Regions from separate parts of the Homo sapiens genome. Here region 1 is linked to region 2. Evidence: fine-mapped expression QTL. A gene starts in region 2. The other region holds a variant in brackets. All regions are shown on one strand. Distances are between the middles of the regions.

Region 1 (16,408 bases), 70 kb before region 2:
TTCCCAATTTCCAGAATAAAATGAGTTCTCTTCCTTTGGGGGCACTAAACCAGCATGCCGGGCTCAGGGACGGAGAATGGTGATGTGTGGCTGAAACGACCTGACTTCCCAAGTCTATCCGGAGAGACTGACCGAGGGCTGGGATTGGAAGAGGCGCCATTCCGGAGTCCAGAAATTAACATAGGCTTATAAATATGTTCCAGGACACAGACGAGCGATGACTGGTTCCTTATTATGCGAAGATGCCAGTGGCAGGTTTTAGGCGTTTAGGAATACAAAAGTGGGTTAGATTCCCACGGCCGGCTCCAGTGTGATAGAGTGATATTACCAGGTTTAACTAGAGCCATTAAGAGACTCTTCATTATCCCCACACCACCGCCACCAAAGTTATCACAGAAACCATAATGCAAGAGAGAATTTCCATTCCATCAACAAGAGAGGGAGCCAGTCTATCTTTGTCCAGAGAAAATGAGCATCCCAGCACGAAGCTCGTGAGGAATAGAGTGCACAACCCTCCAATAACATGCCCGGCAGGATTTCCTCAGCTATGCAGTTGGCTAAGCGGAGGCAGGCTGCTCCGGCTCTATCTTCTCGTGTACCTGGCCTGCAAGAATGCCAGCTCTATGAGCAGCTGAAAGATCAATTAGTGACAAAGGACACTCCTAGGACTTACATTCCACAGGGCTTAAGTCTTAAGCTCCAAGGAAATGAAGATCCAGGCCGCCCTCCCAGTGTGCAGCAATCTCATTTATTTTTCTACAAAGACTCACCACTCAAACCAAGCTAATTTTCTTGGTATCACCTGCACCTGGTTTACTGGCTCCTGAGCAACGTGCCAGTCCTTCAGTTTGAAATGGACTTTTCTTCCAGCCGATCCTTTTTTTTTTTTTTTTTTTTTGAGACGGAGTTTCGCTCTTGTTGCCCAGGCTGGAGTGCAATGGCGCGATCTCGGCTCACTGCAACCTCCGTCTCCTGGGTTCAAGCGATTCTCCTGCCTCAGCCTCCCGAGTAGCTGGGATTACAGGCATGCACCACCACCCCGGCTAATTTTGTATTTTTAGCAGAGACGGGGTTTCTCCATGTTGGTCAGGCTGGTCTTGTACTCCCGACCTCAGGTGATCCACCCACCTCGGCCTCCCAAAGTGCTGGGATTACAGGCGTGAGCTACTGCGCCCGGCCAGCCAATCCCTTTTTTGCAACTTCACGATGACAACTCATAGGTTTTTTGTCTGCCTCCACCAGACTGTCCGCTCTCCTTCACTGGACTCCCTTCACACACCACGTACTCAGCATCCTCTGTGTCACTCTGGTTTTGCTTATAGAAAGTGCTCTTCCATTTTGTGAGGCTCCCCCCCCGCCATGGACGGATAATGAGAAGGGACCAGGTCTTCTATTTCCTTCACATTTCTTGTGTCACCTCAAGTATCTTCTCACGGGACAGACACCATGTCAGATATACGGAGGACCCAGTTTTATAGCTGAGCCCCACGAGACGACCCAGCACACCCCCATACACACAGCAAAAATTGCCCCCCTCATTCAGATGTTCCTGGCATCCTGTAACTTGCCCAAAGCTAGATTTATTGCTCCTGCTGTAAAGTGTATCTGCTCTAAGCCTCACTTAAAAGCTATCACTTGGCAGAAGATCAAGTTAAAAGTGCAGGCTAGCAGGTGATGGTGAGGGTAGGAGAGGGTGGGGAGGGCGGGGTGGAGCCAAGAATGGAAGCGCTGAGAACTACCAGCCCAATATTTAACCTAACTGGTAATTTGCTGTGACAATTATGCCACAAACGGAACACTACCACTATGCAAGGATGTCGCTCTCTAATTAAGAGGGCTCTGCTTTTCCTAGTCACCGGCACTTTAATAACACACACACAAAATGAGGCTTGGCTGCGGGAGCTCAAGGTTCTATTAGGAGGCACGTGCAGCATGCGGCGGTGGCCTGCACATCGGTCTGAGCGTTGCTGCCCGGTGAACCTGCTAACACCTTCAATTCTCCAGCAGACGGAGATGGAAGGGAACCGAGCAGTCAGACGCTCTCACGAGAGAGCCGCTTTGACTGACAGGCGTTTTCCCGGAGAGCCTGCGCGTGCCCCCACTGCAAATCGACACTCAGGCAGCGCCTCTTTCCAACCAGGAAGGCTTGGTGTGGGTTTGATCCTTACAGAGTAACTTTAACAAGGATTTCCAAAAAAATAAAAGTCCACGGAAACAAATTTTCCTCTTCAAGATGGAGAGCAAGACAGAACAGGGACACACGCACACCCAGACACCCAAATTGCCAGTTAGAGACCCTGGTATGAGACAAAAGAATATTATTACCATCACGGCTGTAAAGGATGTTGCCGTCTTCTAAACTGACTGCTGGACTCCTGAAACGTGGCTAAGCAAGACAAACTGTTTTTTGCTTAATTAGTGGCTCCTTTGTGAAAGGTTTGCTGCCTGGAAAGAGCCCATTAGAGGAGGAGAGCTCATTTGCAGGGATGCACCTTATACAGCTATTCAGATTTTGAATAAATCGTGGAGCAGGAAATTGGTGGTGGTGGTGACGGTGGGAGTCGCCGTGTTATGGAAGCAGAAAAGCTTCTGCAAGAGACAGGCTTTGCATTACAAGCCTAAGTGCTGAGGAGATCAGCTTTCCCAGGCAAACATATAAGCCTCTAAAATTTTAGGCCAATGGAAATGACCTCTGTACCATGGCTGACTGAAGATATAAATAAACTTCAACATGAACAGCAGTGTCAACGGTGAGAGGAGATGAGAGTCCAACTGGGGCTTATTTTTAAAAAGTCCTGCCTGTTCTAACTCCATTTCAGGGCTGGGCATTGAAGAGCACAAAGCTGCAGTTCCCCGCGGCAAGCCCTCCTCTTTAACAGGCACCAGCCCCCTAGGTTACCTGGCCGTTGAAAGGAAGCTGCAACACACATAAGTTAAATATAGGTTTGGTTATTTGCATTTTACAAGCACCGAGAATGTTATCTGAGGAAGCTGTCATTTTTAATGACAGCACAAACTTCCAATTACCAACTGGGTAATGCACTAGGGAACGGGCATAATTTTATAAGAACGGCTCGCAATTATTAAAAGTTTACACGATCACTTCTGAGTTGGCTATATAAATATTTCTCACGAGGCAGGTGGGATTCAGTTTTTCACAGGGTCTATTCAAGGCTGAAAAAAAGATTTGTTTTATTGAAAAGTATACATTTTGAGACTCATCAACAGCTAAGGAGAGGGTGTAAAGCGACAGCTACTAAGAGCCTGAGAAGCTGCAAATGCAGCCAGGTGGCTGGTTCAAAGCCTCTCACAAACACCCACGAGCTCACTGGCAAGTCAGACACTGTCACGACAAACCCAATGCAGGTTAGGGGTATGGCAATGGATAACACAAGAACCTCTTACTGGCCGGGCACAGTGTCTCACGCCCGTAATCCCAGCACTTTGGGAGGCCGAGGAGGCCGGATCACCTGAGGTCGGGAGTTCGAGATTAGCCTGGCCAACATGGTGAAACCCTGTCTCTACTAGAAATACAGAAATTATCCAGATGTGGTGACACACGCCTGTATAATCCCAGCTACTCGGGAGGCTGAGGCAGAAGAATCGCTTGAACCTGGGAGGTGGAGGTTGCAGTGAGCCGAGATCGTGCCATTGCACTCCAGCCTGGGCAACAGAGAGAGACTCCATCTCAAAAAAATAAAAAATTAAAAAAAAAAAAAAGAAACTTTCACTCAGCCCATAGTCAAACACTGTCCTATTTGCACCAGGAACCCATTTCCGTTCAGTACCTCTACCCAGCCTCCGTGGCACCGCGTGGCTTCGTGTCAGTGACGAACACAGCGCATGCCACTGTTACCAGTGTTGCTCTCGGTCTGCCTCATACAGACCGGACAGCCCCGACCTAAATGAAGGCTCTAATCAGTGAGTCTCAAATCACCCAATTCTTTGTGAAGTCTTTCCTGATTGACTCCAGTCTTCCAGCAATTTCCCCCTCAACTGCATTTTAATATCACTGTGATATGACTACTTAGCCCCCAAGCCTTGCTCTAAATAGTCCATAGCTCTCAGGGACAGATATCTTTAAGTCACACACTGGCTGGGCGCGGTGGCTCACGCCTGTAATCCCAGCACCTTGGGAGACCAAGGTGGGCGGATCACCTGAGGTCGAGAGTTTGAGACCAGCCTGACCAACATGGTCTCTACTAAAAATAGAAAATTAGCTGGGCGCGGTGGCATATACCTGTAAATCCCAGCTACTCGGGAGCCTGAGGCAGGAGAATTGCTTGAACCTGGGAGGCAGAGTTTGCAGTGAGCCAAGATCACGCCATTGCACTCCAGCCTGGGCAACAAGAGCGAAACTCCATCTCAAAAAAAAAAAAAAAAAAAAAAAAAGTCACATACTAAGGCTGGGCGTGGTGGCTCACGCCTGTAATCCCAGCACTTTGGGAGGCAGAGGCGGGCAGATCACGAGATCAGGAGATTGAGACCATCCTGGCTAACACGGTGAAACCCCGTCTCTACTAAAAATACAAAAAATAAGCTGGGCATGGTGGCGGGCGCCTGTAGTCCCAGCTATTTGGGAGGCTGAGGCAGGAGGATTGCTTGAACTTGGGAGGCAGAGGTTGCAGTGAGCCGAGATTGTGCCACTGCACTCTAGCCTGGGTAAGAGTGAAACTCCGTCTAAAAAACAAACAAACAAACAAACAAAAAGACCCCAAAAAATCAGCTGGGCGTGCAGTAGTCCCAGCTACTCAAGAGGCTGAGGCAGGAGAATCACTTAAACCCAGGAGGTGGTGGTTGCAGTGAGCCGAGATCGCACCACTGCACTCCAGCCTGGGCGACAGAGACTCCATCTCAAAAAATAAAGTCACATACTGACAGGCTGGAACCATGAAGACGAGTGGCTACATACTTTTCTCAATGACTTTTCAAAACCATCATTACAAATATAATTACAAGACTTAATAATCATTAATAGCTTTAGATAATCAGGTTGATTTATAGGCAAGTCAAATGTATTCTCAAGAGGCCTTCTTTGCCAGGGTGGTGGGAAACAAGAGTTTCGCCTCTTCATAGGCACAGCCCCCGTCTGTGTAGTAGGCAGGATGAAACCAGGGCTCCAAAGCCTTCTTTTTCCCTCCCCTCCCTACATTAATCTACCTGCTTCCAAGGAAGGACCTGCTCAAATTACCTACCAGCCCTTGGTGGTACACAGGGTTAGAGGAGTTATCCCTGGACTTAGGCAAAGAAAAATCAATGAGAGAACCTAACAGAACAAGAAAAGGCATGGATTGTCAGTGCCACAAAGCATAAACGCTTCTGCTCGTGAAATCTTGAATTTATAACAATTAGAAAAAGTATAAGCATCCTGCAAGAGTGAATTGGCTGAAAACACATCCAAAGAGCCAAACACCACTTAAAATTATTTATCTAAAGCTATTAATGATTAGTAAATCTTTTAATTATGTTTGTGATTTTTTTGTTTTGAGATGGAGTCTCCCTCAGTCGCTCAGGCTGGAGTGCCATGGTGTGATCTTGGCTCACTGCAGCCTCTGCCTCACGGGGAGGGACTCTCTTGCTTCAGCCTCCCGGGCAGCTGGGATTACAGGGGTGAGCCACCACACCCGGCTAATTTTTGTGTTTTTAGTAGAGATGTGGTTTCACCATGTTGGCCAGGCTGCTCTTGAACTCCTGATCACAAGTGATCCACCTGCCTTGGCCTCCCAAAGTGTGGGATTATAGGTGTGAGCCACTGCACCTGGCCTAATGGTGGTTCTGATGCAATTTTTATCAAAATAAAGATGCCCATCCTAGGAGAAAATCATTACAAAATGATATGCTTACTATGCTACCATTTTTAATTTAAACTCTATACACATAGATACATAGAAAAAACTAGCCAGGGCCAGGCACGGTGGCTCACACCTGTAATCCCAGCACTTTGGGAGGCCGAGGAGGGCGGATCACGAGGTCAGGAGATCGAGACCATCCTGGCTAACATGGTGAAACCCCATCTGTACTAAAAATACAAAAAATTAGCTGGGTACGGTGGCACATGCCTGTAGTCCCAACTACCAGGCTGTAGTCCAGCTACATGCCTGTAGTCCCAGCTACTTGGGAGGCCAAGGCAGGGGAATTGCTTGAACCCGGGAGGTGGAGGTTGCAGTGAGCTGAGATCGTGTCACCGCACTCCAGCCTGGCGACAGAGCAAGACTCTGTCTCAAAAAAAAAAAAAAAGAAGAAAAAAGTAGCCAGCTACACAAGTGTTTATTACTGGTTGGTGAAATCCTAAGTAATTTTATTTTTCTTTTGCCTTTTTGAGATGGAGTCTCGCTCAGTCGCCCAGGCTAGAGTGCAGTGGTGCGATCTCAGCTCACTGCAGCCTCTGCCTTCCAGGTTCAAGTGATTCTCCTGCCTCAGCTGCCCGAGTAGCTGGGATTACAGGAGCCCACCACCACACCTGGCTAATTTTTGTATTTTTAGTAGAGGTGGGGTTTCACTATGTTGGCCAGGCTAGTCTCAAACTCCTAACCTCAGGTGATCCACCTGCCTTGGCCTCCCAAAGTGCTGGGATTACAAGGGAGAGCCACCGCACCCACCCTTTCTCCCCCTTTTTTTGAGATAGGGTCTCGCTCTGTCGCCCAGGCTGGGGTGCAGTGGTGCAATCATGGCTCACTGCAGCCTTGACCTCCCACGGCTCAGGTGATTCTCCCACCTCAGCCTCCCAGGTAGCTGGGACTACAGGTGTGTGCCACCACGCCCAGCTAATTTTTATTTTTTTGTAGGGACGGGGGTCTCCTTATGTTACCCAGGCTGGTCTCGAACTCCTTGGCTCAAGCGATTTGCCCGCCTCAGCCTCCCAAAGTGTTGGGATTATAGGCATGAGCCACTGTGCCAGGCCAATTTTGTTTTTCTTAACTGTAGATTATTTTCCTAAAATAAACATGGAGGCCGGGCGCGGTGGCTCACACCTGTAATCCCAGCACTTTGGGAGGCCGAGGCAGGTGGATCACAAGGTCAGGAGTTCGAGACCATCCTGGCTAACACGGTGAAACCCCGTCTCTACTAAAAATACAGAAAATTAGCCAGGCATGGTGGCACATGCCTGTAGTCCCAGCTACTCAGGAGGCTGAGGCAGAATCGCTTGAACCTGGGAGGCGGAGGTTGCAGTGAGCTGAGATCGTGCCACTGCACTCCAGCCTGGGTGACAGAGCAAGACTCCGTCTCAAAATAAATAAACAAACAAACAAACAAATATGATTACTTGCATAAGAAAGTCAATAGTCCAAATTATCCTTTTTTTTCTTAAACATTTACTTAATGTCTTAATAACAAAAATACCAGTTTTTTTGAATAAGTGAAAATTAAACATCTATGCTCTCTTTTTGAGGAACCGATGACTTCCAAAGGTGTTTATAAAAGCCAGAACTCTACCAGCGGAGTGGATATAAGACTAAGAGTTAACAAACCACATAAAAGGTGGCCGGGGAGTGGGGGGAATCTTCCCTTTGAGACAAGGAAACAATCAGTTTACTAGGGGAATAGTGGCCTTCTAACAGGTGAAAAGAAGAAAAGGAGACCAAACAACCTGTTTCATCCTCTATAAATAAAACCTTGGGCGGCATATTGCCAAAGAAACATGAGTCAATATAAACCTTTACATACTGGGCGGCCAAACTTCACTTTTGGACAGTATATTAATTATGTAGTCAATAACCATGGGTTTCATTAGTGTATTAAATACCACGATCAATAGTATTTATACTTTTTGAAGACAGCCCACTCAGGAAACAGAAGTGGGGGAGGGGAACATTTTTGACCCTGCAGTTCAAAAAAGGAACAGCACGCGAGAGATTAGCAAGGTTTTAATGGAAAGCATAAAACACTGGAAATATGGACAGAAATCAGATTATTACCCTTTTATTTTTTTCCCTGCCCCTTTCACAATGAGACTGGAGGGAATTCAAGAACCACTTGAAATAAAGGCGAAATGATTAGATTTTTTTCTCCTAATTGCCTAACGCTGATGTCATGGTGTACGCAAAATCAACATTGATCTCTAAGTGAAAGAGGAGAAACAGAACAACATCAACAGCCTTTCGAGGTAAACTGTGGGCCAGAATCTATTTAGGCAACCCGCAGGGACCAAAATCTCTGAAAAGCCCAACAGTGGAGCCAGTTTCTGATGCTCCTCTGCTGGTGATCTGATCTTTGAGTGGGGAAATCTGTTAGAAACAGCCTCCTCGAGGGAGCCCTCCCCCTGGCACTGCCCCTGGGTTCCCAATCACATCCACGGAGACGTGCTGGTTTCATCACGCTGGCCACTGAGAAGGCGCGAGGACAGGTGTCAGCGTTCCCTGGACACGTCCTGTCCTGGTACCACGGCTGGTCAGGCCTCTTCACTGTGTGGACAGACACGTGGGGAGAGGAGGGAATGCTGGGAGTAGTAGGCATGAAAGACTGGTTACTGGGCTGAAAGCTAGATCGCCACTTCCCAGCCACAATTTGTCAATCCAGAAGAGGGTTGAAGACTGTAATTTTCTCGTCGATGCTTTATAAGCAAGGTCAGACAGAAAAGAACTTCCGTAAAAATGGCTGAGGCCTCAGTCAGAGACTGAAATGCGACCCAGTTACCATCTCCTGAGACTAGAGAAGGGTAGGAAGGAATGTGTCTAAACAATTAGTGAGGCTGAGCAGGAGTCCCTCTGTGTCTGTCCTCAGGAACGGAAGTCATCCCGTCTAGGGCTGGCTGGCCCCTATGTCAACGGCAGACACCGAGGGGGGAGACAGACAGGACACCATCACTCCCCATATCCAAAAGCCTCCGCAGGCGGCATGTGCAGTGATGAACAGCAGGTCCTCTGGCTGCAGAGTGACCGCCGCACTGCCGGGGTACGACGGCGAGATGTGCGGCCAATGGCAGGCGGTGTGTTGCAGCCACCGGATAGATAATTAATATGATTAGGAACACACAGAGCGAGCATGCTTTTGCTGACTGAAAGGCCCACTAGCATAATTACTGTTTTCTTACCAGCTCACTGTCTGTACACATTTCAAAGCGTGGTTGGTGTTAGACTGCTGCGTAAACATCAATAAAATCCCAAGTGCCAGATCATCAGCATCCTCAGGCAAAATGGCTTTTTGTTTTTAGTGTTTTCATGCTTTGAAAGATGCATTTCAGGGCTGCAAACACTAGGAAGAAGGATCTCCATGCCTTGGACTAATCTTCGGGTTTATAATGAGTTAACATCCCCCCCAAGTGAACATTTATTATGAAGGCTAATTAATTGCTTTCCAGTTATAGGAACTCTTTGCATTCAAAGAAAGTAGGATTCACAACCAAAGAATATACTGTTTATTAAAACAAAGCAAGGGAAACAAAAGGCTTCAAAATCCTTTCCATGTAACATAGCTTTAGTCAAAAAAAACAAAATACATGAATGCAGGAATGTGTACAGGTAGAAAAAGTACGCACTCACCAAGCGAAGCGCAGCATTAATTGAAGTGA[G/A]AAGTAAAGAAACGCTTTGTAGCCGCTCGGATTTCCTTAGGGGACGGCAAGTCAATGCTTATCAGCGGTCCTCAGAAGAGACAATTTTGATTAATATCAGACCCATCTGACTCAGTCTATTAAACCCTGAAGGAAGGATACTCTTCAGATATAGAAGATATGCCTTTGATTAATCATTCTACCCTATTGCCATTCCAAGCATTACCAACTATGTAGCACCTCTAGAAAGAGAGAGCCTTCGAATTCTAGGAAGACACACTTACTAAAATCCCCAGGTGCTCATGACCGCTTCTCAGCTCGCCCCGCTGAGAAGAACCCAAGTTGTGAGCGGGGATGGGGGGGGGTGGTCACCACTGGAGAAGCAAAAACCTAGTTACATAATTTACTTCATGGTCTGCAGTTAGGGTCAGTGACTTACGACATAATTCCTGCTTGATGATAATGAAATTGACAGAAGCCTGAAGGCAGAGGGAGTGACTGGTCTTGCGCTAGCCACTGGCTGACTCCGTAGGCCTGACACAGTCTACACCACAACCACCTGAGCGTATTTTCCTTTGCCTACCGATGGGTTCTGAGATGCGCACGAGGGGGGAAATTGCTTAGTCCACCATCAAGAGCCTCTGCACTGTGTAGCTAACATGGGATCGTCACACGGAGGTGGGAGGAAATCGATTCCATTCTGCCTATTTGCAAACTTCTGCCCGATTGGCACTGCTCCTCTCACATCAATGCACTTCTCCTGATGCTCATGACCAGCCTTCGGCCATACTCTCTGTAGTCCACGGGCTTCACGTCCATCACAGTGGCCTTAATTCGAGACTCGTCCTTCAAAAAGGGAGAAGTAGTTTGTGAGCAGTGAAAGTGTGGTGTGGAGCAGTGAAACCCCTTTTGCTTCAGTGGTTTCAGTGAGCCCAGCGGGAGGGAACAGACGCACGGGTTCAGAGTTCAGTCATTCCAGTGAGTGACAGCCTCCTCCTGAATGTCTGGGGCTGGGCGAGTGAACAGGTCCTTTCTCCAGCACAGGCCCTTCTGATTCTTTACCCAAGCTCCCAAACACCCAGAAGCCTAGAATCCTAGTGAGATGGACTTTAGAGGGTTTCTCTAGTTTCATTTATTCTCCCTACTGCAGGGGATACAGCCCAGAGAGGACATGTGACTTGCACAAAGCCACACAGCTAGTTCTGAAAGCTAAACTTTCAAACTTTCATTTCAAGAAAAGCTGAGTGGTGAAAGGAAGAGCACCTGCAGCAGAGGGAGAGGACCGAGTCTGTCCTGTCTCAGCTCTGGGGAGGCAGCCTCTCTTCACTTCACCTTCCCTGTCCAGACACGATGGGGCTGAATGGCCCCAAAAATCCCCCCCAGCCCCACCCCACTCCCTGACATTGTTTCACGGTGACATCTGATCCCCTATCTCATTTAATGTTTATAGTAGTCGCAGAAGAACGGGCGTTAAGGTAAATACGTGAGTAAACCCTGCAATCAGCAGGGGCGTTTCTACCACTCCCCCTGCCCACTCGTACGTTTACACTCACGGCCTGAATGGTGCCTTTCCGGGCAGAACGGAGTGATACCCAGGAAGGCTGCACAGGCGAGCTCGGGGCTGTCACACTGCTGTGTGCTTGGTCGGTACTAAATCCCGTGATACTCGTAAGCATGATCAAAAGCAAAGCTCTGAAGTCAGGCTGCCTGGGTTGGACGTTAGCTCGACCACTTGCTAGCATACAACTTAGGCAAGTGACTTGTTCTCTGAATGCCCGTGTCTCTCTGTATGTAATTCCTTCAGTGGCAAAATAGGGTAACCACAGTTTCTACATATAGGGTTACTAGGCTCAAGTGAGATGTTCCACGTAAAGGATGTAGAACAGTTACCTGGCAGACCATGCTCAATACTGTTTGATTATAACTATAACTAAGCTGGGCGCGGTGGCTCATGCCTGTAATCCTGGCACTTTGGGAGGCTGAGGCGGGTGGATCATCTGAGGTCAGGAGTTCGAGACCAGCCTGGCCAACATGGTGAAAACTCCGTCTCTACTAAAAATACAAAAATTAGCCGGGCATGGTGGCGGGCGCCTGTAATCCCAGCTACTCGAGGGGCTAAGGCAGGAGAATCACTTGAACCCGGGAGGCGGAGGTTGTGGTGAGCCAAGATCGTCCCACTGCACTCCAGCCTGGGTGACAGAGACTCTGTCTCAAATAAATAAATAAATAAATAAATAAATAAATAAATAAATAAATACTATATGGTATTATGGGCAATTTCAGGAATTTTCAAGGTAGTTTTAACCACACGTGGCCTTTGTTTCATATACTGACTGACTGACTTAGAAACGGGGTTTCACTATGTTACCCAGGCTGGCCTTGAACTGCTGCCTCAGTCTCCCAAGTAGCTGGGACCACAGGCACACACCACCACGCCCGGCTCATATACTTAATATACTTTTCTACAATCTAAATTTGTCAAAGATATGACTCTACTGCATGCGTTATAATTTTTTTGTCAGAACACAGACGAAAAAATCCTAGGATTTAACTGAAAAAAAATAAAAATAAAAAAAATAAACAAACAAAAAAATCCATATTGTATTCCCCACCCCCCCGCCATTGTTTCGACAAGACACTTAAGCTCTCTCTCCTTCCTCATCTGAAAATGGGGATCATAACAGCACCTGTGTTGGGCAAAGTCAGCACCGGGGTCTGGCAGTGAGTACAGTAACTCCCTGCCAGGGAGTGTCACGACACTGCCGTAGGTGACAAACAGCACCTCCCCACCACCAACCCTGCTGCCCAGGCCCTTACTTACGTTGTAGGTCTCCACTTTGACCCTGACTCTGAATATGAAAGATCGGAAGTTGGCATTCTGGAAAACTTCTTCAAATGCCTGTTCATTCTGCAAAAACAAACATAAAACTTGACACATGGAAACCACTGGACAACTTGCAAATACTGATAAGACTTTTAAAAAGACTTCTGAAAATGCATCTCCTGGGTAGTTTCAAATTACTTAGGAATGACTCATCTACAGGTAACATTACATGAAACTGTTTTAAGTAGAATCTTATTGAAAATTAAAACACTAATCACATTCATAGAAGGTAGAATGGCAGTTGTCAGGGCCAGGGAGAAGAGGGTTTTGGAAAAGGAGCTATTGCTTAATGTGCAGAGTTTCAAATCGCCACCCATGAACAGTGTGTCTCCATTCTCCCCTTCCCTCCATCCTTGGAAAACACAAGGCTGTCGTCTGTCTCTATGAATTTGCCTATTTAAAAAAGTACTGGAAAAGGATGGTGGTGACAGGGGCACAGTAATGTGAATGTACCTAACGCCACTAAACTGTACACGTAAAAATGGTTACAAAGGCAAATTTGGTTATGTATGCTTTACTAGACACAAAAAATTAAAAACGCTCTTAGGAAGTTTCTAAGACTTTAAGGCTGGGCACGGTGGCTCATACCTGTCATCCCAGCGCTTTGGGAAGCGGAAGCGGGTGGATCACTTGAGGTTGGGAGTTCAAGACCAGCCTGGCCAACACGGTGAAACCCCATCTCTACTAAAAACACAAAAATTAGCTGGGCATAGTGGCAGGTGCCTGTAATCCCAGGTACTAGGGAGGCTGAGGCAGAAGAATTGCTTCGACCTGAGAGGCGGAGGCTACAGTGAGCTGAGACTGCACTACTGCACTCCAGCATGGGCTATGGAGCGAGACTCTCAAAAAAAAAAAAAATTAGGAGGTCAGGTATGGTGGCGCGTGACTATAATCCCAATGTTTTGGGAGACCGAGGTGGGAGGACTGCTTGAGGCCAGGAGTTCAAGAATAGCCTGGGGAACATAGCAAAACCCCATCTCTACCAAAAAAAAAAAAAAAAAAACTTAAGCCAGGTATGGTGGCGTGTACCAGTAGTCCCAGCTACTCAGGAGACTGAGGTGGCAGGACTGTCTGAGCCCAAGAGTTTGAAGCTGCAGTGAGCCATGATCGCACACCACGGCGCTCCAACATGGGTGATGAGGCAAGACCTTGTCTCAAAAAAAAGAAAAAAAGGAAAAACACTCAGAAGAAAGTTCAATATAATTCGTGATTTCAGCCTCTGTATTTATAGCTACTGATTTGGTGTGCAAGCAGAGAAGACTGTTGAGGTGCGCAAAGGCTAGGGAAGGCCTAAAAACAATCCTTTTCCCTCTCTCACTCCTCAAATGCAATTTAAGTTTATTAAAAAAAAAAAAGTCTGGTAAACAGACAAGAATTAGAGAATATAGTTTGTATAAAGATGCATAAATAAATGTGTAATAACTATATTAACAGAGTTGATTGAGACCTTTGACAAAAAAAAAGAAAAACTAATTAATAGTTCACACCAACCTAGTGTTTTTTGCAAGTCACGCACGGCGTGAAAGCAGCTTTGCTATACAGAACTCTTTTCTGTAAAGGTTACTTGATCAAAACCCAAACCCAAACCAAATGGACTTTCAGATATGAAAATAAAACAATGGGTTAAAGCTTGAGAAAATTACACCGGCTGCCATTATGCTTCCAAGATGAGGGGCGTGGAGTGCGAACTCCAGGATCTCACGGTTCCTCGGGGAAGTTTCTATATGTCCTCATTCACCGGCAGAAAAAACAGTCAAATATAATAAGCTCATAAAAATCCTGAAAGGCTTACTCGGGCCTTAAAATCTGATACGAAAATTGAAGACCAGGTAAAAACAGACAAAAGATACTATCACACTTTAAAGTCAATTCTAGTTATTTCTGTAACAGGATTTGTTGAGACTATTTTGAGAGCTCTCATGGACAATTTAAAAAAAGAGTCAGGGCAGAGCCCAAACAGACAGAACTGGGGACAGGAAGAAAAAGAAAAACACACCAGAACAAATGGCAAAGCCTTTCATCTTTGTGGCCTTTACAAGTATTCCAACCAATTTGGAGGAAATCGGGGGAAAAGCCATCTACAGAAAGGTGCCCATTTATGTGGCCCAGAAAACATAGCTTTTATTGGTCTTCCTTATGTTTTACCTGAGCAACTACCTTTCCTAAATTCAGCATTATTAGCAATCTATTCTGTACATTAAATAAACCTAATATGTGAAAATGCAAACTTATAAAAATGAAATGGACAAAGTTACCTTACGGAAGAAAGTCACCGCATAAGAATTGCATCTGATGGGCTGAAATGGCAGGCACCTTATATGTGCATTTATTATTATTGTTTTATAGGACAGACCCAGGAACTTGACATACGTGCATTTTAACCAGGATCTGACTCAACTTTTCTGGAAGGTATTTACTATGTTAAAAAAGCATGCCTGTAATAATTCAGGTTGTTTCAGGGACACCTCCCGACCTAAGTCATCTCAGGCACACTAGCTCTGATGTGCTAATAGGAACAGGAGAAACGGGTGGCTTCGATTTAGAAAGTGCTTTGGTTTTAAAGTACTTTTATATACATTATTTCACTGTTAAGCACATCCCAAATGGACAAGATTAGATAACATCAGATGAGCTCTTAAATAATTATCAGGCTGAGAAACTGTATACAAACAATACCAAAAAGAAACAAACTAAAAAATATTAAACAGCAAAAAGAGGGCCAGTGTTGGGCAAGGTGTGGTGGCTCACACCTGTAATCCCAGCATTTCGGGTGGCTGAAGCGGGCAGATCATGAGGTCAGGAGTTCGAGACCAGCCTGGCCAACATGGTAAAACCCCGTCTCTACTAAAAATACAAAAACTAGCCGGGCATCGTGGCGGGTGCCTGTCATCCCAGCTACTCAGGAGGCTGGGGCAGGAGAATCACTTGAACCCGGGAGGCGGAGACTGCGGTGAGCTGAGATCGCGCCACTGCACTCCAGCCTAGGAAACAGGGCAAGACTCCATCTCAAAAAAAAAAAAATGTGTGGGGTCAGTGTTATAGAATGAGAACCATTAAAAGTTATAGAAGTTATAATAAAATATGTGGCTGACCTTGTCTTTTAATTCCCCAAGATAAGCAGCATTTTGTCCAAGGATAGCTTCAGCAGACTCCTGGAAACAAGTCACCCACTGATTCTCTTGAAAATCTGCAATATTTACCTAAAAAACACAATTCTACATTATTTCAGCAAAGAAATAATAAAAAGACACACTGAGAAGATGGGGAGAGGTTAATGTTCTTTTTCCACTTATTAAAATAATTTCCAGAGAGGGCCAGGTGCAGTGGGCTCATGCCTGTCATCCCAGCACTTTGGGAGGCCAAGGCGGGTGGAACACTTGAGGCCAGGAGTTTGAAACCAGCCTGGCCAACATGGTGAAACTCCGTCTCTACGAAAAATACAAAAATTAGCCAGGCATGGTGGCGGGTGCCTGTAATCCCAGCTACTCAGGAGGCTGAGGCGGGAGAATCACTTGAACCCGGGAGGCGGAGGTTGCAGCGAGCTGAGATCGAGCCACTGCACTCCAGCCTGGGTGACAGAGAGAGGCCCATCAGATTAGTTCCTGTCGAGGTGCAGCTGGCTTTGGATGAAGGGTTTTGAGTGAATCGGGGGAGTTCTCTGCATTTTCAATTGCCCACTCTGTAGTTCCTAGGAGGAGTTCCATGAGACGGCTCTGTCACTGCTGGGCACCCAGACAACTGAAGAGCCTGCCCGTGAGCCTCTGTCAGTCACCAAATTGACCTGGCAAAGGAAATGAGCAATCAAATGTCTCCCACTGGGCTGTGGTGTAACATTAAACAGGGCAAAGTCAAGGAAGAAAGCAGATCTCAAAGAATCCACTTGCTGAAGTAAAAGCCTTTGTAGAAACACGAGTGGTTTTTCTTTAAGGCATCATTTTGACGATTTTACATCTTCATTTTGCATGGGTACAAGGCTTTTAATAGAGAGAATGTTATGACGAAAAATAAGGTGACGAAACCAGTTAAAAGTGAAAAGC
Region 2 (16,408 bases):
GACACTTCTTTCGTGAAGATATACAAATGGCCAGTAAGCCCACGAAAAGATGCTCAACGTCACTAGCCACCAGAGAAATACAAATAAAAGCACAGTGAGATACCATTACACATTCACTAGAATACTCGAAATCAAAGACTGATGACTGGCAAGGATATGGAGCAACTAGAATTCTCATGATCACACTGGAAAAGGTTGGCGATTTCTTTTACACATTCAGTTACCTGTGACCCAGCAATTACATTCCTAGATATTTATCCCAGAGAAACGAAAACATATTTCCACAAAAAGAGTTGTACTTAAATGGTCATAGCATCTTCATTTATAATAGCCAAAAGATGAAAATAACCCAAATGTGCAATAATAAGTAAATAAACAAATTTTGTTATAGTCATACAATGGAATACTACTGAGCCATAAAAAGGTGCAGATTACTGAATTAACATGGGTAAATCTCAAAAACCATTTTGGTCCACAGTGGTGGCTTGTGCCTGTAACCCCAACACTTTGGGAGGCCAAGGTGGGAGGATCACTTGAGCCCAGGAGTTCAAGATCATCCTGGACAACACACCAAGACTCCATCGCTACAAAAAATATTTTTAGGCCGGGCGTGGTGGCTCACACCTGTAATCCCAGCACTTTGGGAGGCTGAGGCGGGTGGATCACGAGGTCAAGAGATCGAGACCATCCTGACCACCGTGGTGAAGCCCCGTCTCTACTAAAAATACAAAAATTAGCTGGGGATGGTGGCATGCGGCTGTAATCCCAGCTACTCGGGAGGCTGAGGGAAGAGAATCGCTTCAACCCAGGAGGCAGAGGTTGCAGTGAGCTGAGATTGCGCCACTGCACTCCAGTCTGGCAACAGAGCAAGACTGTGTCTCAAAAAAAAAAAAAAAAATTTTTTTTTAATTAGCCAAGAGTGGTGGCATGCACTTGTAGTCCCAGCTACTCAGGAGGCTGAGGTGCGAGGATCTCTTGAGTTCAGGAGGTCAAGGCTGGAGTGAGCCATGACTGTGTCGCTGCACTCCAGCCTGGGTGACAGAGACCCTACCTCTGGGGAAAAAAAAAAAACTGCTGAAAGAAGCCAGACACAAAAGGATAGATATTATTTGATTCCATTTATATGAAGTCTTAGGAAAGGCAAAACTAACCTACAAAGGTAGAAACCAGAACACTGGTTGCCTAGGGTGAGGATGGAGGTGGGGAAGGAGCAAGAGGAGTTGTGCGTTGATGGAAGTATTCTATATCTCCACAGGGGCAATGTGGTTACAGGGGTGCGCACATTTGTCAAAGTTCATCAAGCTGTACATTTAAAATACGTGCAATTTGGCCGGGCATGGTGGCTTATGCCTGTAATCCCAGCACTTTGGAAGGCCAAGGCAGGAGGAGCATCTGAGGTCAGGAGTTCGAGACCAGCCTGGCCAACATAGTGAAACCCCATCACTATTAAAAATACAAAAATTAGCCAGGTGGTGGCGTGCACCTGTAACCCCAATTACTAAGGAGACTGAGGCATGAGAACTGCTTGAACCTGGGAGGCAGAGGTTGCAGTGAGCTGAGATCACGCCACTGCACTCCAGGGTGACAGGAGGAAACTCTGCCTCAAATAAATAAATAAATAAATAAAAAAGGTGCAATTTACTATACGTAAGCAAAATGTCAATGACAGTGATTTTTCTAAAAAGCAGTTATTCTGGGGAACAGTACTGGACAAGGTAAGGCAGGAGGTCAGTAATTACATTAAACACCTCTTTCTTTCTTCTTTCTAAATGAAATAGAGACAGGATCTTGCTATGTTGCCCAGCCTGGTATCAAACTCTTTCTTGGCCTCAAGGGATCCTCCTGCATTAGCCTCCCCAAGTGCTGAGAGTACACATGTGAGCCACCATGCCCGGCCATGAACACCTTTCTGTTCCGTTTGATTTTAAAACCACGTGCATGTATGAGGGGGATTCAAAAAGTACACGAAAAATGTGCATTATGAAAAAACTATGCATGCATTTCAAAAATTTTTTTTGCACTAAAATAAACTCATACTAACTTGTTATAACATGTCTGAACAAGACCTAGTTTGAGGTACTAAGAAGGATAAGACATCAGTTTGAAAAGAGCCCCTATCAGAGCAACATGAATTCTGCTAAAATGGAAACAACAACAAACAACAAATTCAAGGGGAAGGTTGGGTGGAAGAAGGATGAGATCACTTATGAAAGAAAAGTATATGGGGACGATGCTCCAAAGAAATCAGCTGTTTACAAATGTAACTCATTTTAAGGGACAAGGCCAGGCACAGTGGCTCATGCCTATAATCCCAAAGACTTGGGAGGCAAGGCAGGAGAACTGTTTGGAGACCAAGAGTTAGAGACCAGCTTAGGCAAGATGGCGAAACCCCATCTCTACACAAAATTAAAAAAAAAAAAAATTAGCTGGGCATGGTGGCATGCACCTGTACTCCCAGCTACTGGAGAGGTTGAGGTGGAAGGATCACTTGAGCCCAGGAGTTGGAGGTTGCAGTGAGCTATGATCATGCCACTGCACTCCAGCCTGAGAGACAAAGAACAAGACTCTGTCATTTAAAAAAAATTACGGCCAGGTGCAATGGCTCAAGTCTGTAATCCCAGGACTTGGGGAAGCCGAGGCGGCAGATCACTTGAGGCCAGGGGTTCAAGACCAGCCTGGACAACATGACGAAACCTCATCTCTACTAAAAATACAAAAATTAGCTGGGCGTGGTGGCGCACGTCTGTAATCGAGAGACAGAGGCAAAAGAATCACTTGAACCTGGGAGGTGAAGGTTGCAGTGAGCTGAGATTGTGCTTCTGCACCCCAGCCTGGGCAACAGAGTGAGACCCTTTAAAAAAAAAATCCCTAGTAAGTATATAAAGCAACAAATGTAATACTCAAGGGCACATGTGTTCAAATCTTCACCCCATGGACACATTATTCAACCTCTCTGTACTTCCTTCCTCTGTAAAATGGGAGTATAATAGCTATCTTCTAGGGTTACTTAAGTACTGACTACTAAAGCATCTGTCACATTAGAAATAGTCAAAAACATTAGTTCCCTTCCCCTTTCGTTATATAATTAAGATACAAATGCTATGTATTCTGTTGACCACAAGAGTTCTATGCATCATCTCTTATTTTATCATGTGACTCTTGCCCAAACGCCTTCACATGTGTGTGGTATTTGCGTACCCTTTGTGGCCTGTGTCTTTTGAACGAAAATGATACCTGCTTTAGCTGATAATGAAAGTCAGCAAAGGTTCTCCAACTCATTCCATCACCACAAACACATGTGAAACTTTCATTCTTCATTTATGAACAAAATACTTCACCTACGCTGGAAATAGGTTTATAAAATTTTGAATATAAAAACATGGCCAGGTGCAGTGGCTCACATCTATAATCACAGCACTTTGGGAAGCTGAGGCGAGAGGATCGCTTAAGCCCAGGAGTTTGAGACTAGCATGGGCAACAGAGTGAGACCCCATCTCTAAAAAATAAAAAAACTTATCAAATTATTTAAATATCTCCATGATCATTCTTTATTTTTTTTTGAGACAGTCTCACTCTGTCGCCCAGTCTGGAATGCACTGGTGCAATCTCGGCTCACTGCAACCTCTGCCTCACGGGTTCAAGCAATTATCCTGCCTCAGGCTCTCAAGCAGCAGGGATTACAGGCACACGCCAACACACCCAGCTAATTTTGTATTTTTAGTAGACCAGGGTTTCCCCATGTTGGCCAGGCTGATCTCGAACTCCTGACCTCAAGTGATCCACCTGCCTTGGCCTCCTAAAGTGCTTAGATTACAGGCATGAGCCACTGCGCCTGGCCCATGATCAGTCTTTTTAAAAGTGAAGAACCATTCTTTTCTTTTTTTCTTTTGAGATGGAGTTTTGCTCTTGTTGCTGGAGTGCAATGGTGCGATCTTGGCTTACCGGAACCTCTATCTCCCGGGTTCAAGAGATTCTCCTGCCTCAGCCTCCCAAGTAGCTGGGATTCCAGGCATGCGCCCCCACACCTGGCTAATTTTGTATTTCTAATAGAGACAGAGTTTCTCCATGTTGGCCAAGCTGGTCTCAAACTCCCAATCTCAGGTGATCTGCCTGCCTTGGCTTCCCAAAATGCTGGGATTACAGGCGTGAGCCACTGCGCCTGGCCTAGAAACATTCTTAATTTGTCTTAAAGACACAAGGTAGCAGCTATAAAGTAAATGAAAGCTACAATTTAAAATCACTTCCCCGGTTTCAGCATTCACACATTCCTAATTTATTTAAATATTCACTTGAGTCCAACAATAGTTCTTCCTGTTCCTGTTTTTCCCCCAAGCTGCCTTTCTTCCCCATTCACCTGTCCCTTTCTTCCCACTGCCTCATTCATTCATGCAACTAGCAAGCATTTATTCAGCACCTAAAACTTGCCAGCACTTCTCCAGGTATTGGGGATACAATGCAGAGTAAAATAACCCAGACATGATTGCAGGCCTCATGGAATTTACACAAAGTATTAGGCCAGGCACAGTGGCTCAAGCCTGTGATCCCAGCATACTGGGAGGCCAAGGTGGGTGGATCTCGAGGCCAGGAGTTCAAGACCAGCCTGGCCTACATGGCGAAACCCTGTCTCTACTAAAAATACAAAAATTAGCAGGGTGTGGTGGTGGGCACCTGTAATCCCAGCTTCTAGGGAGGCTAAGACAGGAGAATCGCTTGAACCCGGGAGGCAGAGGTTGCAGTGAGCCGAGAATGTGCCACTGCACTCCAGCATGGGCAACAGAGCAAGACTCTGTCTCAAAACAAACAAACAAACAAACACAATAATTTTAAAATTTTAAAAAGAAACTGATAAATCAACAAACATAAAACTGCAATTATTAATAGGTAACATAAACACTGAGCATTTACTATGTATCAGTGTGCTAAGCACTTTAAATTTAATAACTCACTCCATCCTCCTACTTACCTTATGCAATAGATATCATTGCTCTCATTTTACAGAAAAGAAACAGTTTAGTATCTTGCCTCAAGTCATGCATCTAATAAGTGAATGGGGTCGTGCGCGGTGGCTCACGCCTGTAATCCCAGCACTCTGGGAGGCCGAAGCAGGTGGATTGCTTGAGGTCAGGAGTTCGAGACCAGCCTGGCCAACATGGTGAAACCCCATCTCTACTAAAAATACAAAAATTAGCCGGGCATCATGGCAGTCTCCTGTATTCTCAGCTACCTGGGAGGCTGAGGGAGGAGAATTGCTTGAACCCAGGAGGCGGAGGTTGCAGTGAGTCAAGATCGTGCCACTGCACTCCAGCCTGGGCAACAGAGCAAGACTCCATCTCAAAAAGAAAAAAAATAAATAATTCAATAAGTGAATGAACAGGAATTGGGGTCTCAAAGGGATTTAGCCTAGTAAGGGAAGTCACAAATGAGCTGAGATACGAAGATAGTGTTTGCCAGTGTGGGGAAGAGTGAAGAACCACCCAGGCAGTGGGCAGAGGGAAAAAAATGTTCAGGGCCGGGTGCGGTGGCTCACTTCTGTAATCCCAGCACTTTGGGAGGCCGAGGAGGGTGGATCACCTAAGGTTGGGAGTTCAAGACCAGCCTGGGCAACATGGTGAAACCCCCGTGTCTACTAAAAATACAAAAAATTACGCAGGTGTGGTGGTACATGCCTGTAATCCCAGCTACTCTGGAGGCAGAGGCACGAGAACTGCCTGAACCCAGAAGGCAGAGGTTGCAGTGAGCCGAGATTGCGCCACCGCACTCCAGCCTGGGGCGGTAGTGGGGGGGTATGGGGAGAAAGAGTGAGACTCTGCCTCAAAAAAAAAAAAAAAAAAAAAAAAAAGGCCGGGCACAGTGGCTCACGCCTGTAACCCCAACACTTTGGGAGGCCGAGGCGGGCGAATCACAAGGTCAGGAGATCGAGACCATCCTGGCTAACACGGTGAAACCCCGTCTCTACTAAAAAATACAAAAAATTAGCCGGGCGTGGTGGCGGGTACCTGTAGTCCCAGCTATTCGGGAGGCTGAGACAGGAGAATGGCGTGAACCCAGGAGGCAGAGCTTGCAGTGAGCCGAGATCGCGCCACTGCCCTCCAGCCTGGGCAACAGAGCAAGATTCCAGCTCAAAAAAAAAAAAAAAAGTTCAAAGGCCCCATGGAAGAAGGTAGGAGTATGGAATATACCAGAAATCTAAATTTAAAAAAAAATGTGGGGGTGACTGGAGAGGTAGGCTGAGAGTATGCTGTGGATGGGAATGGTGGCAGGAACGTATGCTGAGTGGAAGTCAGCAGCTCAGGCAAAAAAAAAGACGGTGCCAGTATGGATGGAGAGAAGCCAGTGGGCTTGATAGATCTACGCAGAGGCAAAATACACTTCACTTCGTGAGGGACTGGATGCCCAGGTAATGGACAATATAGGAGGAATGATTTCTCAATTTCTGGTTAGCACTGAACTGAATAGATAATGGTGCCATCCGTGGAGATAGGGATCAAGAGGCCCAGACTTAGAAAGATAAAGAATTTGCTTTGGGATACGTATACTGAACTTAAAACCCTCTGAAGCATGGAATAAGCAGACAGATGACGGAAGTTTGTCTTTTAGAGTAAAGGTGGCTCTGTACAAAGAAATTTGTGAGCAACTGACATATATTAATAGATGGCAATGGAATTGCCTTGGGGCCAGGCGCGGTGGTTCATGCCTGTAATTCCAGCATTTTGGGAGGCCGAGGCGGGCGGATAACTTGAGGTCTGGTGTTCGAGATCAGCCTGGCCAACATGATGAAACCCAGTCTCTAATAAAAACACAAAAAGTAGCCGAGTGTGGTGGCGCACACATGTAGTCCCAGCTACTCGGGAGGCTGAGACAGGAGACTCACTTGCACCCGGGAGACGGAGGTTGCAGTGAGCCGAGATCGCGCCTCTGCACTCCAGCCTGGGCGACAGTGAGTGTCGCCCAGGCTGGAGAAAAAAAAAGAAATTGCCTCGGGAGTCAAGAGGGCCTAGAGGGAGCCTTGATTCAACAAAAATTTACAAAGAGGGACTTACAAATAAGACGGGGATAGACCTGCCAAGCTGAGCCACTAAAAACCAAGGAAGAGGGTGTGACCTGAAGCAAGCAGGGCTTAAACGCAAACGCTGCTGAGAACTCAGGTAAGCTGAAAACGGAAAAGGGCTGGATTTAGCAACTTGGAGGCCACTGGTACCTTCAGCCAGGGTTTTCTACAGCGATCAAAGGGATGACTGGAGTGGGTTAAAGAGTTGATGAAAGGCGAGGAAAGGAAGTGGCTGAAACCAGACAAGAAGTTTGGCTGTGGGTGGGGAAAGGAGAAGAGACAGAAAGTGTCCGCAGGTGGAAGATGCAGAGAAAGGCAAGCGTTTATTTAGTTTGTTCTTACGTAGGAAAAATGTGAGCATGTTTTAAAGACGATCGAAAGAATGCTTTGAGGAGGGGGCGATGACACTAGAGGGACGCCCGGCGGGTCCCCACCGCCCCCCGCCATCTCCTCCCCTCGCGTTCATCCCCCGTCGCCCCGGGCTCCCCTCCCCCTCTCTACTCCGCGAGGCTCGGGGCCGCAGCCACCCCGGACCGCCGGCCCAGCCCCCGGCACCTCCTCACCGCAATGGCCCCCTCGCTCAGTTGGCCGACCATGGCTCCACCGCCAAGACTTCCCCGCGGACCCCGCAACAGCTCCAGCTTCCCCACCCGGGTCCCGCGCGCTGCGCAGTTATTGGCCCGAGAAGTTGCGCGCACCGCTCCCGCCCCCGACGTGCGCGCGGCTCAGGGGCGGGCCCGGGCGCTACGCAGCCGCCGCATTGGCCGAGGCGCGGCCCACGTGACCCACCCATGGTCCCAAGCGAGGCCTGGCGCGGGACGCCGGACGCGGTGCGGGGCGGAGCGGGGCGCCAAGGGGCGCGCCAGGAGCTGCGCGGGCGCTGGGAGGGAGACCAGGGCGCAGTTCCGGGCGCGTCTGAGCGGTTCTCGAGGCGTTCTCGCCTCGGTCTCTGGCGAGTGCACGGGTTGGTATCCCAGAGGAGGTTAAAGCTGTTCCTTGAGACCTCCGCTGCTAAATAGAGTCGCAGTAGTGACCCGATTCGTCCAGCAACGCGGGGCTGACTTCCCGCCTCCAAGCCCTGAGCTTGGCACCGTGGCGGTGGGGGGTGGGGGTGGGGGGTCTCCGAAAGGGAATCAGACCCGGCCCCCGTCCTTAGAGAAGAGGACAGTGTGTGGGGGCACTTTATGCCGTCAGTAACCCCACCTCCAGGTAGACGTGGTACAGGCCCCAAGGGTGTTGGAATCACAGCTGGGAAATCAGGGACGCCGTCCCGGAGGAGGTGCCATTTGAGCCGAGTCGAAGAACGTGTGGGAATTTTCCAGGTGGACTCCATAAGCCAGGGTAGGGTTGGTCCGGAAAGCATGAGTAGCCTATGCCAAAACATTGGAGAGTTGAAATAGCCTGGCAAGCCGGGGATAGCAATGAGTTGTTCAGTATGCAAGGGTGCATGCAGAGGAGTAAGTGACACCTGAGAATTAGAAAGTCAGACAAGGGTCAAGTAAGGATGGTTTTGTCCTGGGCTTCCTGGTATGCTTGGAGTAGCGTTGATGAATTTAAGGGCAGAGCACTGACTTCTGTCTCAGTGTTGGAGGCTGGATTGAAAGTGGGGAGTGGTGCCAATGGCATGGACATTAATTATAACACTCTAGGAAGAATGCCAGACGAGATGGTGAGGACTTAATCAGAACGCTGAACTATGTAAGAGAGGGAAATACCTTGTTAAATGAATAGTTGCTGGGGTGGGTGAGAAAGAAAAATCTGGGATGTGTCTCAGAGAAACTAGAGAGGGATCAGGCCGGGCGCGGTGGCTCACGCCTGTAATCCCAGCGCTTTGGGAGGCCAAGGCTGGCGGATCATCTGAGGTCAGGAGTTCGAGACCAGCCTGGCCAACATGGTGAAACCCCGTCTCTACTAAAAATACAAAAATTAGCCGGGCGTAGTTGCGCGCATCTGTAATCCCAGCTACTCGGAGGCTGAGGCAGGAGAATTGCTTGAACCTGGGAGGCGGAGGGTGCAGTGAGCCGAGATGGTGCCACTGCACTCCAGCCTGGGTGACAGAGCAAGACTCTGCCTCACAAAAAAAAAAAAAAGAGGATCTAAGAGCACAGATGGTAGCTATCTAGTCTGCTTCGTCTTTGTATAACCATCACCTGCATGGTGCCTGTGACAAAGTAGTCTTTCAGTAAATATTTCTGAATGGAAGGATGTTGAGTGAATTGCTGTGAGAAAATATAGATCCTTCCTTAGCATATAAACTAGAGGAAAAGACCACAAGAATTGATTTTATTGTTTCAGGCTTCCTTGAATGAAATCTTGATTTTCCTTTTTTTTTTTTTTCCGAGACAGAGTCTTGCTCTGTCACCCAGGCTGGAGTGCAATGGCGTGATCTCAGCTCACTGCAACCTCCGCCTCCCCAGTTCACGCAGTTCTCTTGCCTCAGCCTCCCGAGTAGCTGGGACTACAAGTGTGCGCCACCACACCTGGCTAATTTTTTTGTAGTTTTAGTAGAGACGGGGTTTCACTGTGTTAGCCAGGATGGTCTCCATCTCCTGACCTCGTGATCCACCTACCTCGGCTTCCCAAAGTGCTGGGATTACAGGTGTGAGCCACCGTACCTGGCTGAACTCTTGATTTTCTAAAATTGTGCATTTGTAAGATTCCTATTTTCTTACTCATTTTATAGATCAAAAGCAGCATGGATCTGCCTGTGGATGAATGGAAATCATATCTGCTTCAAAAGTGGGCTTCACTCCCGACGTCTGTTCAGGTCACAATTTCTACAGCAGAGACCTTGAGGGATATCTTTCTTCACTCCTCTTCACTTCTTCAGTAAGTAAATCAAGCTTTAACAAGGGAATTGTGAGCCAAAAAATGTTCTATTTTGTCATTTGCTCTGAAGTAATGTGTCTTTTTCTTAAATAAAGATTGAGTCTTGCTTGTTTCCCAGGCTGGTCTCAAATTTCTGGGCTCAAGCAATCCTCCCACCTTGGCCTCCCAAGGTGCTGGGAGTACAGGCGTGAGCCACCATGTCTGGCCTGGTAACATCTCTTTTTGATGGAAAATGCCTGAAGTACTTTTCCTGGTTCGTTTCTATCCCAGCGTGTCCTGTGAACTAATTCACTTCTGTCATCCTGCAGGATTAGCCAGATCTTTCCTCAGGAAAGCTCTCCCTGAGCCTCAGCTGGGCCATCTTCACTCTTTGTACATTTACAATGCTGTGTGATTTTCCTTTATATATGTGTGTGCTCTTTTGACTAATGCCTGCCTTTGCCGCTAGATTGTGAACTTCATGAGGGAAGGGACCGTGTTTGTATTTGTTTTTCTTTTTTTTTTTTTCTTTTTTTCTTTTTCTTGAGACTGTCTCGCTCTGTCACCCAGGCTAGAGTGCAGTGGCGCAATCTCAGCCCACTGCCTCCGCCTCCCGGGTTCAGGCAATTCTCGTATCTCAGCTTCCCGAGTATTTGGGATTACAGTCGCACACCACCATGCTCGGCTAATTTATTTATTTATTTATTTTTATTTTATTTTATTTTTTTTGACACAGGGTCTCACTCTGTCACCCAGTCTGGAGTGCAGTGGCACAATCTCAGCTCACTGCAATCTCCACCTCCTGGGTTCAAGCGATTCTCATGCCTCAGCGTCCCAAATAGCTAGGATTACAGGCGTACACCATCATGCCCAGCTCACATTTTTGTATTTTTAGTAGAGACAGGGTTTCACCATGTTGGCCAGGCTGGTCTTGAACTCCTGCCCTCAAATGATCCGCCCGCCTCAGCCTCCCAAAGTGCTGGGATTACAGGCATGAGCCACTGTGCCCGGCCTGTTTGTCTTTCTATAGACAAAAATAGTGCAGTGTCAAAAAATAAGTGGTTAGTAAACATTAATTGAATGACAACTTGGTAATGTATATAAAGTTCTTAGTTTAGTTACTGGCTGTTATTAGTGCTTAAAATGACGTATAAAGCAGAACCTTATATATTTGCAGATCCAGAAACACACACCTTTCACGTTCAAGGTTGATGTCTTTATCTTTGTGCCAGGCACATAGTAGGCGCTCGTATATTAATTGAATGAAATAATGAGTTCAGTTTTGAGCCTTGCCAGTTCAGATACTCGGTACAGTTAGGGTTATACTTTTTTTGTTAGTCTTCATTTCTTTTCTTTTCTTTTCTTTTTTTTTTTTTTTTTTTTTTTTTTTGGACAGAGTTTTGCTCTTGTTGCCCAGGCTGGAGTGCAGTGGCACAGTCTTGGCTCACTGCAACCTCCGCCTCCCAAGTTCAAGTGATTCTCCTGCCTCAGCCTCCCGAGTAGCTGGGATTGCAGGCGCATTCCACCATACCCGGCTAATTTTGTATTTTTAATAGAGATGGAGTTTCGCCATGTTGGGCAGGCTGGTCTCCAACTCCTGGCCTCAGGTGATCCGCCCGCCTTGGCCTCCCAAAGTGCTGGGATTGCAGGCATGAGCCACTGCGCCCGGCCCCCCAGTGCATTTTTATTTCTCGTGTGTATTGCCTATTTGTGTCCCTTGCCCATTTTCTAGCAGGTTGTCTTTATTCTCTTGTTCATTTGTAGGAGATCTTCATAAATCTAGCTGTATAGTTCTTTGCTATGTAAGTTACTATTTGTTGTATAAATTATTCCCAATCTGTTTATCTTTTTTACCCTATTTACAATGTAAATGTTTTACATTTACATTGTATATAAATTGTGTATATATGTTTCAAATTTTTAAATTTCATTTAAAATTTATTTTTAGACACAAGGTCTCAGTATGTTGCTCAGGCTGACCTCAAGCTCCTGGGCTCAAGCGATCCTCCTGTCTTCCTTAGGATGGTGGAGTGAACCATCCTAAGCAAGACACAACCCAGAAGGTATAAAAGAAGATGAGGTTGGGTGCGGTGGCTCATACCTGTAAACCTAGCACTTTGGGAGCCAAAGGTGAGAGGATTGCTTGAGCCCAGGAGCCTGGGCAACATAGTGAGATTCCATCTCTATAAACAAATTTTAAAAATTAGCCAAGCATGGTGGCATGTGCCTGTCGTCCCAGCTACTCAGGAGGCTGAGGTGGGAGGATCACTTGAACCTGGGAGGTCAAGGCTGCAGCGAGCCATGATTGTGCCACTGCACTCCAGCCTGGGTGACAGAACAAGACTATTTCTCAAAAAAAAAAAAAAAAAAGAAAGAAAATGACAGATATGGCTGTATAAAAATGAAGCCAGACAACATGACATGTGCCTGTAATTCCAACTACTTGGGAGTTGATAAAAATGTTCATTGTTTTCTGCTAACATTTTTTTACCTTTAGCTCTCTAATCCTTCTGCACTTTTTCCTCCATCTTTATTGAGGTATAACTGACAAAATATACGTTTAAGGGGTACAACATTATGTTATGATGTATGTATACATCTCCAATTGATTTTGTGTACTATGTGAAGGAATATTCTCACTTTTTTTCCAGGTGGACAATTTTTCTGTAGCATTTAATGCATGACGCATCCTTTCCCCAGTGCTTGCAAATGCCTCAGTTATTAAAATTAAATTCCTACTCATGTTACTCCATTCTCACGTTGCTATCAAGAAATACCCAAGACTGGGTAATTTATAAAGAAAAGAGGTTTAATTGACTCACACATGGCTGGGAAGGCCTCAGGAAACTTACCATCATGGTGGAAGACGAAGGAAAAAAAGGCACAGCCCTCACAGGGTGGCAGGAAGGAGAAGTGCTGAGCAAAGGGGGAAAGCCCCTTATAAAATCATCAGATTTCACCGGGCGCGGTGGCTCACGCCTGTAATCGCAGCGCTTTGGGAGACTGGGGCAGGAGGATCACTTGAAGTCAGGAGTTCAGGACCAGCCCAGCCAACATGGTGAAACCCCATCTCTACTAAAAATGCAAAAAAAAAATTAGCCAGGCATTGCGGCATGTGCCTGTAACCGCACCTACTCAGGAGGCTGAGACAGGAGAATTGCTTGAACCTGGGAGACGGAGGGTGCAGTGCGCTGAGATTGTGCCACTGCTCTCCAGCCTGGGCAACAGAGCAAGACTCCATCTCAAAAAATAAAAATATAAATATAAATAAAATAATCAGATTTCGTGAGAACTCACTCACTATCACGAGAACAGCATGGGGAAACCACTCCCACGATTCTGTTACCTCCCATCAGGTCCCTCCGACAACACAGGCTTCTGGGAAATAACAGTTCAAGATGAGATTTGGGTGGGGACACAGCCACGCCATATCACTACTTATCCACAAATTTGTTTCTAGGCTCTAGATCTGTGCCGGAACAAAAGGGTTTTAATTACTGTGACTTTATAGTGTATTTTATTAGTATTATTTTTCTTTTGAGACTGAGCCTCCCTCTGTCGCCCAGGCTGGAGTGCAGTGGCGCAATCTCAGCTCACTGCAACTTGTGCCTCGTGGGTTCAAGCGATTCTCCTGTCTCAGCCTCCCAAGTAGCTAGGGTTACAGGCACACGCCATCATGCCCGGCTAATGTTTGTATTTTTAGTAGAGACGGGGTTTTACCATGTTGGCCAGGCTGGTCTCAAACTCCTGACCTCAGGTGACCCATCCACCTTGGCCTCCCAAAGTCCTGGAATTACAGGCGTGAGCCACCCCACCTGGCCTATAGTGTCATTTTAGAAACTCTAGAACTCTTCAGTTTCAAGTAACAGAAACCCCCTTCAAAGTATGAAACTTTTAGCTATGAAACTAGGCTATCTGAAGGGAGATCTATTTTCAGGCTAGGTTGTATTCAGGGGCTCAAAGGATGTCATCAGAATGTGTATTTCTTCATGTGTCAGACAGATTCTCTCCATCTAGTGGGTGCTATAACCATTCACAGCCCTGGGCACACCCTGATAGTGTAATAACACCCCAGGGGAAGAGGCTGTCTTTCTGAAGTTTCAGCAGAAAACTTCTGGGTGGGGCTCAGGTCAACTGAATTTTGATCACATGCACATCCCTTCAACCAGAGGTATGAGACTCCTCTGATTGGCCAGGCCTGTGTCATGTGCCCAACCCTGCTGTGAAATGGGGTCTACCCTTCTTCAGCCTCAAAAAATGGATTCCCCACTGAGATTTACCGGAAGTAGAGAGAAAGGGTACTTGAAAGCAGGGGAGTCTCAGTACCCAGGCGGCTCCCAGGAAGTGGCCCAGAGGCCAGCTTCCTGCTCGCACACACATAGTCATTGTTCGTATTCCAGAATATCTTGGGTATTTTGTGTGCATTTCCCCCATGTGAACTTTAGAATTGGCTTGTCAAGTTCTTTTTTTTTTTTTTTTTTTTTTTTTGAGACGGAGTCTCGCTCTGTCACCCAAGCTAGAGTGCAGTGGCGTGATCTCGGCTCACTGCAAGCTCTGCCTCCTGGGTTCATGCCATTCTCCTGCCTCAGCCTCTCGAGTAGCTGGGACTACAGGCGCCTGCCACCACGCCCAGCTAATTTTATTTTATTATCTTTTTTTTTTTTTTTGTATTTTTAGTAGAGATGGAGTTTCACCACGTTAGCCAGGATGGTCTTGATCTCCTGACCTCATGATCCACCCGCCTCAGCCTCCCAAAGTGCTGGGATTACAGGCGTGAGCCACCGTGCCCGGCCAGCTTCTCAAGTTCTATAAAAAATGTTGTTGGGCTTTTGATTGGGAATGTGTTGGATTTATAGATTCACTTAAGGAGACCTGACATCTTTACAATATTAAATTTCCTAATCCAAATAAAGGGTATGTCCATTTCTTTAAGGCTTCTTCTATGTCCTTAAGTAAAGTTTTATAGTTTTCTTTATATAGGTCTTACACATTTCATGTTCGATTTATTCTTCTTGTAAGGTTTTTGTTGTTATTGTGAATAAGGCTTTTCCCCCCAATTACATTCTCTAATTGGTGATTGGTGGTGTAAATAAAAGGTAAGAGTTTTTAAATCATCTGACCGGGTGCAGTGGCTCACACCTGTAATCCCAGCATGTTGGGAGCCCAAGGCGGGTGGATCACCTGAGGTCAGGAGTTCAAGACCAGCCTGGGCAACGTGGTGAATGAAACCCTGTCTCTACTAAAAATACAAAAAATTAACTGGCCATGGTGGCGGGCACCTGTAATCCCAGCTGATACCATGGTGGGTTATGGTAGCCTCAGAATGAATTGGAGAGCTTCCCGCCTTTTTCTGTGCTCTGAAATAGCTTATATAATGTAGGAATTATGTGCTTCTTAAAGGCTAGTAGAAAAATTCTGTAAAACTATGTAGACCAGATGCCTTAGTGAAAATATTTTCCTTCCTTAGTTTAATTTTTTATCAGAATAATATGCATACATACTTTAAGAAATCAAATAGTGCTTCAAAACTTATCAGGAAAAACAGCAACTCCCTGTCCACTCTTCCCCATTCCTGATTCTTATTCCCCAGAGACAGCTACTTTAAATTAACTGTTTCTTCTGGCATTTAATTTTTTTTTTAACAGGTTGAGTCAGAGTCTCACTCTGTTACCCAGGCTGGAGTGCAGTGGCGCGATCTCTGTTCACTGCAACCTCTGCCTCCCAGGTTCAAGTGATTATCTTGCCTCAGTCTCCCGAGTAGCTGGGATTACAGGCATGCACTACTATATATGCCTAAAATATATAATTTTTATATTTTTAGTAGAGACAGGGTTTCACCATGTTGGCCAGGCTAGTCTCAAACTCCTGACCTCAAGGGATCCACCCGCCTCAGCCTCCCAAAGTGCTGGGGTTACAGGCATGAGCCATCACACCAGACCTTTTTTTTTTTTGAGACAGAATCTCACTCTGCCACCCAGGCTGGAGTGCAATGGCACGATCTGGGCTCACTGCAACCTCTGCCTCCCAGGTTCAAGCGATTCTCATGCCTCAGCCACCCAAGTAGCTAGGATTACAGGTGTGTGCCATCACACCCAGCTAATTTTTGTATATTTAGTAGAGATGGGGTTTCACCATGTTGGCCAGGCTGGTCTCAAACTCCCAACCTCAGGTGATCTGCCCACCTTGGTCTCCCAAAGTGCTGGGATTACAGGTGTGAGCCACTGTGCCCAGCCTTCTGACACGTAATTTATTATTTCTAAACATTGCAAATACTGCTCTTTCTTGAGTTTGTATAATTTTAGATGTAATTTTGCTCTCTTCTTCCCAACTCACAGGTATATACTTTGTTTTTTGTTTTTGTTTTTTTGAGACAGAGTTTCGCTCTTGTCACCCAGCCTGGAGTGCAATAGTGCCGTCTTGGCTCACAGCAGCCTCCGCCTCCTGGGTTGAAGCGATTCTCCTGCCTCCACCTCCCGAGTAGCTGGGATTACAGGCATGCACCACCGCGCCCAGCTAATTTTGTATTTTTAGTAGAGACGGGACTTCTCCATA

Direction of the effects. Alleles are on the strand shown, and positions count from the first base shown. SD is a standard deviation of normalised expression in the study named.
In carriers of allele G in region 1, the expression in cerebral cortex of the gene that starts at base 7,733 in region 2 tends to be higher than with A alone (small effect, 0.29 SD a copy in GTEx).

Evidence for each region. PIP is the estimated chance that this variant, and not a neighbour inherited with it, causes the effect.
Region 1: its variant is fine-mapped to the expression of RPA1 in cerebral cortex (GTEx, PIP 0.92).

The regions. Positions count from the first base shown.
Region 1 is chr17:1,890,996-1,907,403 of GRCh38, reverse strand. RPA1 (replication protein A1) reads right to left here. Exons shown (of 17, transcript NM_002945.5): 15 at 15,464-15,571; 16 at 12,309-12,395; 17 at 7,322-10,333. The coding sequence ends at 10,229. Among named protein-coding and RNA genes, the nearest start is that of RPA1, 69 kb to the right of the region's middle. RefSeq lists enhancers at 1-244, 3,056-3,105, 3,186-3,235. The variant G/A (reference allele first, on the strand shown) is at 9,509.
Region 2 is chr17:1,821,330-1,837,737 of GRCh38, reverse strand. It overlaps RPA1 (replication protein A1), which reads right to left and starts at 7,733. Exons shown (of 17, transcript NM_002945.5): 1 at 7,612-7,733. The coding sequence starts at 7,644. SMYD4 (SET and MYND domain containing 4) reads left to right here and starts at 7,836. Exons shown (of 11, transcript NM_052928.3): 1 at 7,836-8,012; 2 at 9,732-9,877. The coding sequence starts at 9,744. RefSeq lists enhancers at 6,337-6,837, 13,654-13,793 and a silencer at 7,465-7,984.